Homo sapiens: one gene and its partner. The protein of the gene in region 1 purifies or fractionates together with the protein of each later gene. This does not show direct contact. Each region holds a gene or a part of one and is shown in the gene's direction. Other genes may lie near its edges. The genes, in order: PLA2G4D and GSTZ1.

The links.
Region 2: the proteins of PLA2G4D (region 1) and GSTZ1 purify together in Homo sapiens (affinity purification with mass spectrometry; one large-scale study listed by BioGRID and IntAct). This does not show direct contact.

The regions. Positions count from the first base shown.
Region 1 is NC_000015.10:42,087,916-42,091,727, reverse strand, and holds part of PLA2G4D (cytosolic phospholipase A2 delta), read left to right. Parts: intron 1-3,812. UniProt on the Homo sapiens protein: Calcium-dependent phospholipase A2 that selectively hydrolyzes glycerophospholipids in the sn-2 position. Has a preference for linoleic acid at the sn-2 position.
Region 2 is NC_000014.9:77,327,530-77,331,341, forward strand, and holds part of GSTZ1 (maleylacetoacetate isomerase), read left to right. Parts: coding exon 1-23; intron 24-382; coding exon 383-508; intron 509-1,593; coding exon 1,594-1,672; intron 1,673-2,225; coding exon 2,226-2,278; intron 2,279-2,780; coding exon 2,781-2,830; intron 2,831-3,539; coding exon 3,540-3,666; 3' UTR 3,667-3,812.

The DNA.
Region 1 (3,812 bases):
AGGCAGACTAGGAGCGTGACTACTGAAGCACAGCATCACAGGGAGATGGTTAGGCCTCCAGGTAACTGCGGGCGAGCCTAACGTCAGGCCCTCCACGAGAGGTGGAGGAGTAGAGTCTTCTCTAACTCCCCCGGGGAAAGGGAGACTCCCTTTCCCGGTCTGCTAAGTAGCAGATGTTTTTCCTTGACACTTTTCGCTACCGCTAGACCATGGTCCGCCTGGCAACAGGCATCTTCCCAGACGCTGGCGTCACCGCTAGACCAAGGAGCCCTTCTGGTGGCCCTGTCTGGGCATAACAGAAGGCTCGCACTCTTGTCTTCTGGTCACTTCTCACTGTGTCCCCTCAGCTCCTATCTCTGTATGGCCTGGTTTTTCCTAGGTTATGATTATAGAGCGAGGATTATTATAATATTGGACTGAAGAGTAATTGCTACAAACTAATGATTAATGATATTCATATATAATCGTATCTAAGATCTATATCTGGTATAACTATTCTTGTTTTATATTTTATTATACTGGAACAGCTTGTATCCTCGGTCTCTTGCCTCGGCGCCTGGGTGGCTTGCCACCCACACGGTAGGTAATATGGTTAGTACAGTATTGTCACCCTACAGAAAGACACGAGAGAAAATGATCTCTATGTTGTGTTTACTCTGGAATGAGAAATGACTGTGGCTCGGAATGTGTCGAATGACAGGCCGCCAGGGCAATTGTGAGGGAAGGGGAAAGGGAAGCTTTTACTGGAAAAAAGGGGGAGGCTCACAGAAACTGCTTGGAAACAGAGTTCATTGGTTCCAGAGCTCAAAGCCAGAGTTGTCAGTTCATTGGTGGAGATGCTGTTACTGGGCACGTGTTTTCTGAGAGCATCTTATCTGAATTATTGCAGTCCTAATGGATGTCTAGTGATGAACCTTGTCAACTCATCTCCCTGGCGAAGGCTGTACCCCTTCCCCCTTTTCCCTCAGCCTCCTCTAGGTCTAGCTCCCAGGTAAAACAAAAGCCTAAGTGTCAGCGATTTGGGAGCCTGAGTCTGCCCCACAACTGGAAACTGCCTCACCTCCAGCCGGCATTCACAGGACTGAGTCCCCAGGACCAGGGGCTGTGCCCAGGTGTTCCACTCCTCTTCTCTCTGACCTCCTGCATTACCCCACCACAGGGCACCGGTGCTAGCAGGGAACAGGGCGGGTCTGCTCATTTCCCTCTTCCTGTCAAAGAGGGACTTTGGCATGAAGGATGTGAAGCTGTTTTCTGTGGGGTTTGTAGGAAGTCCTTGGAAACAACTCTCATCTCAGACATGTAAATACGAGCTCTGCTCTTTCATGCGTTCCCAGCCCTAATTTGTCGGGGTCTGACAAAAGTGATTTCATCCTGGTATCTGCAACATTCACAGTGCCTGAAAACATGGCAAATACTTAATAAACAGTAGTAGCAATAGCAGTTACCTAAAAACTGCTTACTTTATTCCTAAGCAGTCTGCAGGCATTAACATTTTAAGCCTCAGAATACTATGTGAGGTCAAAACTATTATTTCCACTACACATGAGGAAACAGAGGCACAGAGAAGTTTAGTGACTTGTCCAAGGTCACACAGCAAGTAAGTGGCAGGGCCAGGGTTTAAATCCAGACAACCTGGCTCCAGAGTCTGCCTTTAAGCCCCCGTAAAGACCAGTCATTGTAATCACTGTCCCAATAATACCATGTTCTGGGCACTCCATGTTAGCGATGATCTTAGAGGTGAAGAGAATCGGGATTTTTCTCTAGGGAAAATAACCTGCCGGGGAATGGTGGGCTTTCTGAGGTTGAGAAGCTCTCAGTGATGGGAGGGAGAAATGAACCACAGTGCTTAAACCCGGGATGGTGACTGGCTAGACAGTGAGTAACTGGGGCCACTTCTCAGTAGCCCAAGTGACTTTAGAGCAGCCCACAAGCTGTGGACCTGTGGAGTATCAGCCTGGCCGGGGGAGCAGGGGAGCGAGGCTGGGCTGCCTCTGCCCTTCACCTGTCTTGTCTTGGAGCGGGACATTCAAACTCAATACCCTGCAGGGCCCCAGCATCCCAGCCATCACCTCCCTGTGGCCGGCAGTGGTGGAATCTGAGTGAGGGGAGGAAATGGAGCTAGATGTCCCAAAGTTCATGAAATCTCTGCTGCTGACAACCTCTATAAGGCTTAAGGTTTATAGAGTTGACATGTTGCTGGTGCCACTGGAGTTAATCCCCAAGAAGAGAGAAACAAATCTACCTTGCTCGGGGAGGTCACATGTGCTCTGCTGGGAAGCTGCCTGGAATGATAGGACGTTGGCATGGAACCACAGAGAGGAAAGATGCAGGGGCAGGGCCACCAGGCATATGGCTTTGCTGTGGCCCATGGTCCTTTACAGTTTTTGGTGGGGAGTGGAGATTCAGGTCCCCGTGGGTGCTGAGCCAGCCCCTAGCAAGCAGCATCTGTGCAGAGCGGGTACGAGTCCTTGTGGGCACCGAGAACTTCCAACCACATGCATGGAAGTGGGTCTGGTCACGGGAGAGCGCAAAGCAGGAAACACCTCTGGTTTTATCACAACAGTCTCCCAGCTATGCGATATCAAATGTTCACTGTGCAAACACTGCACTGGCTTTTGGCTCCCTCAGGGTCGGGGAGGAGCGGGTGAAGGGACATAGGGTCTGAGAAGATCGTACTTACTTAATGGGGAGTCTAACCTGGTGGCAGAGCCGCTGAATGGCAGAAGCCCCAGCACGGGTTTTTTTCTGGAATGAAGGTGGTCTCTGGGTTGTTCAGCAGGGCCGCCACACTGCATGGCTCCTGGGGTTAGCATTTCATAGGCCTTCATGTGCTTGGTGCCTCCTGGGGGTCCTGCCATGCTGTGGCCCTGCAGGATCCCCTCCTGGCTGGGGCTCCCACTGCCCCACTCCCCGGCACAGGCAGTGTTCCTTCCTGACAGCCCCTGTTCTAACAGACCCTCTGGACATGGGCTCTTTCTGCTGGGGCCACGTGCCTCATAGGTGGTCCTCCTGGGAAGGCTCCCTTCCAAGAGGATGCAAGGCCAACAGCCTTCCTTGGGGTCAGCCCACAGGAAAAAATGCCATTTGCCCTGCCAAACCGATTTGAGTAACCTCACATCAAAGGGGCTTATAAGAAACCTGTGCCAGATGCCCAGAAAAAGCCGTGCTGCAGGGCTCAGGAAGAACAGAAACTCCAGGGCCCTCCTGATCGTGGCAGTGCCGGGGACCTCAGCAGTAGGGTGTGGGGACACCCCCAGTGCTCTGACCCCAGCAGGCCTCAGCCACGCCCCTCTGGCCATCTGCTTTCCCTCCTGCCACCTACTCTCGGCTCATCTTCTCCTCCAGCTTCTGCCCACTCAGCTGCTTCTCCCTCACACCTGGGCTGTCTGTGGCTGATGTGGCCTCATCAGCATCTTAATACACAGTGGCCTTTCACCCACAGCACCCACTGCTCCCTGTGATGGCTGGATGCTCTTGGAGTTTCCTCATTCATACCCCTTACAGTGCAGATAGCTGAGATCCAGGGTAGCGCCTGTGGACTGGGCTGCTGAGGCTCACCCTCCCTTAAGTCATATGCCTGCTTCCCGTCCGGAAGGGCTGAGGGGTGGGCAGTGCTGGCAGCAGGGTCACCAAAGGTAACCCTTGTTTTGCCAAAGGGCTGCCCTCCCTGGGAGCTCTGGGAATGGCTGACATCTAACTGACCTCTGTGGTTGCCACTCCTTGGCCCTCACTTCCTTGCTCTGTCCACTACCCATGTTGCTCTGTTCCCGAAGGGGAAGGGGTTCCACAAATTCCACATCTGGGTGTGCTGC
Region 2 (3,812 bases), on another chromosome or scaffold:
ATGGAATCACCATTCACCAGTCAGTGAGTGCAGGGCCTGGGGGAGGGCCCTCATGAGAGCAGTGCCCTGAATGAGAGCGCCTGACATCTCTTCCTCGCCTGTGTACAGTCAAGGTGCCTAGCACATAGGAGAGGCTCAATACAAGACTCGTGGGGAGGGTGCGAGGTTATTTAGGAAAATAAGGGAAGATTCAAGCACATGGAGAACCAAGTTCTGCATGATAAGGTCCAAAAAGGCTTATAGGGCTTGAGCTGAGCAGAAGCAGGGGGGAAGAGGTGTAGTGATGGTGCTGGAAGAGGAGAAGGAGGAGTTTGCTGGCCCTGTCCCCTCTGGTCCAGGGGTCCTGGGCCCTCTCCCTGCCTCACTGCTCCCCTCTGGACAGCTGGCCATCATTGAGTATCTAGAGGAGATGCGTCCCACTCCGCGACTTCTGCCTCAGGACCCAAAGAAGAGGGCCAGCGTGCGTATGATTTCTGACCTCATCGCTGGTGGCATCCAGCCCCTGCAGGTGTGGCACTTGTACACTTGCACCCTTGCACACCTGACACACTCTTACACTCACACATTGGCTGTGAGCTGCCCAGTGTGGGGGCGGGGGTGTCAAGGGAGGGAGGGGGATTCTCAGGGCCTCTGACCTGGACCATGTGAAAGAAGGGGGTGAAGATCGCAATCTCAGAATTCAGCCCCCCAGCGGGTCCCCCGCTGCGTTCCGAGAAGCTCTAGTTTCCAAGGACGCATGTACAGGTGCTTGGGGTGGGGAAAGGGCCAGAATGGCAGGGGAGAGACTGAGCAGGCCCCAGTCCAGGCCTCCTGCCTTTAACCAGAGCAGCTTCCGTTTCATCTGTGCTATCTCAGTCATATACTGGGATACTTGTAGGATTTTATTTTTTAAGTGTCACTGTTAAAACAGACAACTAAGTATTAAAAACAGTTCATCTGTGCCAGCTTCTACTCTGAATGAGGAAATAGCCCCAGAAAGGTGGAGTGACTTAGGAGTCCCACAGGTAGGTCATAACAAAGTGGGGACTAAGTCAGAATCCCTGCATGCCTATGCCCTCTACCCGCATGTCGCTTTAACAAAGGATGTTGGAGCAGACAGACATCTCCATTTTATAATGAGGAAACAGAGGGAAAATGGCTCCAGGGGTGCCAAGATGGAGCCAGGCTGGAAATCTCTGGAAGCCGGTCTTGTGGACCTCCCTCATCCCAGCCCCACCCTCTTTCACACTCCCTCTCCTCACAAGGGACCATGCAAGGGAGAAGTGAGGGAGACAGGCCTCGAGTTGTGGGCACACCTGCCACAGCCATGGCCGCGTCCTGTGTCACATGAATAGGGATTCTTGCACATCTCTGACAGAATCACGTGGCTTTTTGAGGCCACTGGGGCAGCCTGCAAAGGTGGCTGCTGGGATGGCTACCTCCCTCCAACCTCAGGGCCCTTGGTTGAAGGAAGGGGCTCATGGAGCCTGGGGGAGAAGGGATAGACATCCAGCCAGGGGCAGATGGGAAGTGAACTTCCCTGAGGGGGTTTGGCGAAGGGGTAGCCCCCACCCAGCTGTCAGCGCAATCACAGATTTTCTTTGGGCTGCACAGAACCTGTCTGTCCTGAAGCAAGTGGGAGAGGAGATGCAGCTGACCTGGGCCCAGAACGCCATCACTTGTGGCTTTAACGGTGAGTCCTCACCTCTGTGAGCTGCCCCACAGTGGCCTCTTAGAGGTATGGCCCTCGCACACAGGGGCCTGGGTATCTGAACCAGCCTCCCAGGCTGCTTTGGGCCTGACAGTTGCATGGATGAGGGCAGGACTGGGGAGGCAATGGGCTGGGTGGGCATCCAGACCTTAGCTCCAGCACTTCTGGGAACCTCGGTCCCTGAGCCCACAGCCCTTCATAGCTGGATGGCCCAACTTCAGCTTCACTGCCTACTCCAGCTGGGAAACCAAGGCCAGCACAGCGCCAGCCATCAGAGTGAGAGCTGTCACCGTGGCCAGTGGCAGGGCTTGTCCACTCGAGTGGGGAAATGGTGATTGTCTGTGCGGAGCCTCAGGAAACAGCAGCTCATCCCTAACAGCTCTCTCGAGACCTGGCTGCCACATTCTCACCAGCAGCCATGCCCAGTCTGTCACTCAGTTGGGCGCCCATTTCATAACTATGGAGGCCAAGGCCCAGAAAGCTTTGTGTCCCCTCCCTGCGCCCAGAATAAGATGTTTATGTGGCCTCCCCACAGCCCTGGAGCAGATCCTACAGAGCACAGCGGGCATATACTGTGTAGGAGACGAGGTAAGCTGTCCCCAGACCTCCCCAGGCCCAGCCACAGTGGCTGCCTCCCTCATGCTGACCTCCCTCAAGCTCAGAGCTTCCTGAGAAGGCGTCTGCAGGGGGATCTCTGTGCCATGGGGCACTCCTCAGCTCACTCCCACTAAACCGTCTTAAGAGGGAGTTACTCAAGGTAGAAGACTGGCTGTGAGAGGATGAGGCGGGCCAGCATCAGTTGAGGGATTGTGCTAGATGATGTCTGCGCAGTCAAGGCAATCCATCTTCTCTGGCCCTCTCAACCCACAGAGTTGGTTGTCAGGGCAACTGGAGCATGGCCTGGGAGGGCACTTCAGCTCCGGGGGACAGACTCATGCAGGCCTAGGGCAGACAAGAATTGGAGGTGGGATGGGTGAAAGAGCCGAAGCAGATTGTTGGTACCCCCAGTAGAGTCGCAGTGGACACACCCAGTCCAGCCACTGACTCTGGGGTATGCACCCTGATGGGAACCCACCGGGACCTCTTTCAGGTGACCATGGCTGATCTGTGCTTGGTGCCTCAGGTGGCAAATGCTGAAAGGTAAGAGAGAGCCCCGCCACCCTCCCTTCTCGTGGCTCTGCCCACAGTCAGGCCCCACTCAGCTGGCGAGATAGCATCTCATGCAGACGCTTCGCCAACCAGCCAAGGAGCCCACCATGCCAGGCCACATAGCCACTTCTGCCTGGAAGAGGGCAGAAGAAATTGGGGCAGTGCTCCTACTACGCCCACCACAGCCCAGATGAACCTGTATAGATAGCCCCAGCTCCTAAGAGGAGGTGGCTCACCTGGTGGACCCCCAAGAGCACCTGCCTGATGTCCTCAAATGTGGTGTGTCTGTGAGCAGTAGTGAGCTCTACCTCTGCATCCTTCCGTGAACCCTTTGGTAGGGCACAAATGAGCACCTCTCTGGAAGGCATCATGCTAGGCGTTAGGGATATGGAAACGTATGGCACATTCCCTGCCCCCAAGAAGCTTACAACATGGGGGAAGAGAGTCTGTATATATAAATGCCTAGCACTGGGCCTTACACATAGCAGGTTCACAAAGAAATAGGAACAGTAGGTAACAGATGCCAAATGATACTGCACAAGACCTACCCATCCCCTGTGAATAAGGGCTGCCCCATCGTCCTTCCCTGGACAGCTCCCTCGACCTCATCCAGCCCTGCCTCTCTGCTCCCCCTGCTGCATCAGGGCAGTCTCCCTGTGTCCCTGAAAACCTTAGCTTAGCAGGTGTTTCTCTACTACAGATTCAAGGTGGATCTCACCCCCTACCCTACCATCAGCTCCATCAACAAGAGGCTGCTGGTCTTGGAGGCCTTCCAGGTGTCTCACCCCTGCCGGCAGCCAGATACACCCACTGAGCTGAGGGCCTAGCTCCCAAATCCTGCCCCGTTGGCACAGGGCCACAGGAGCAGAAGCTGGGTGGGCTGAAGAGGCCTGGAAACGAGAGTCTTAATTGAGGAGATGGGAGACTCGAACTCTAGCCCTGGATCTGCCTTCCTGCTGAAACTTGTTCCACC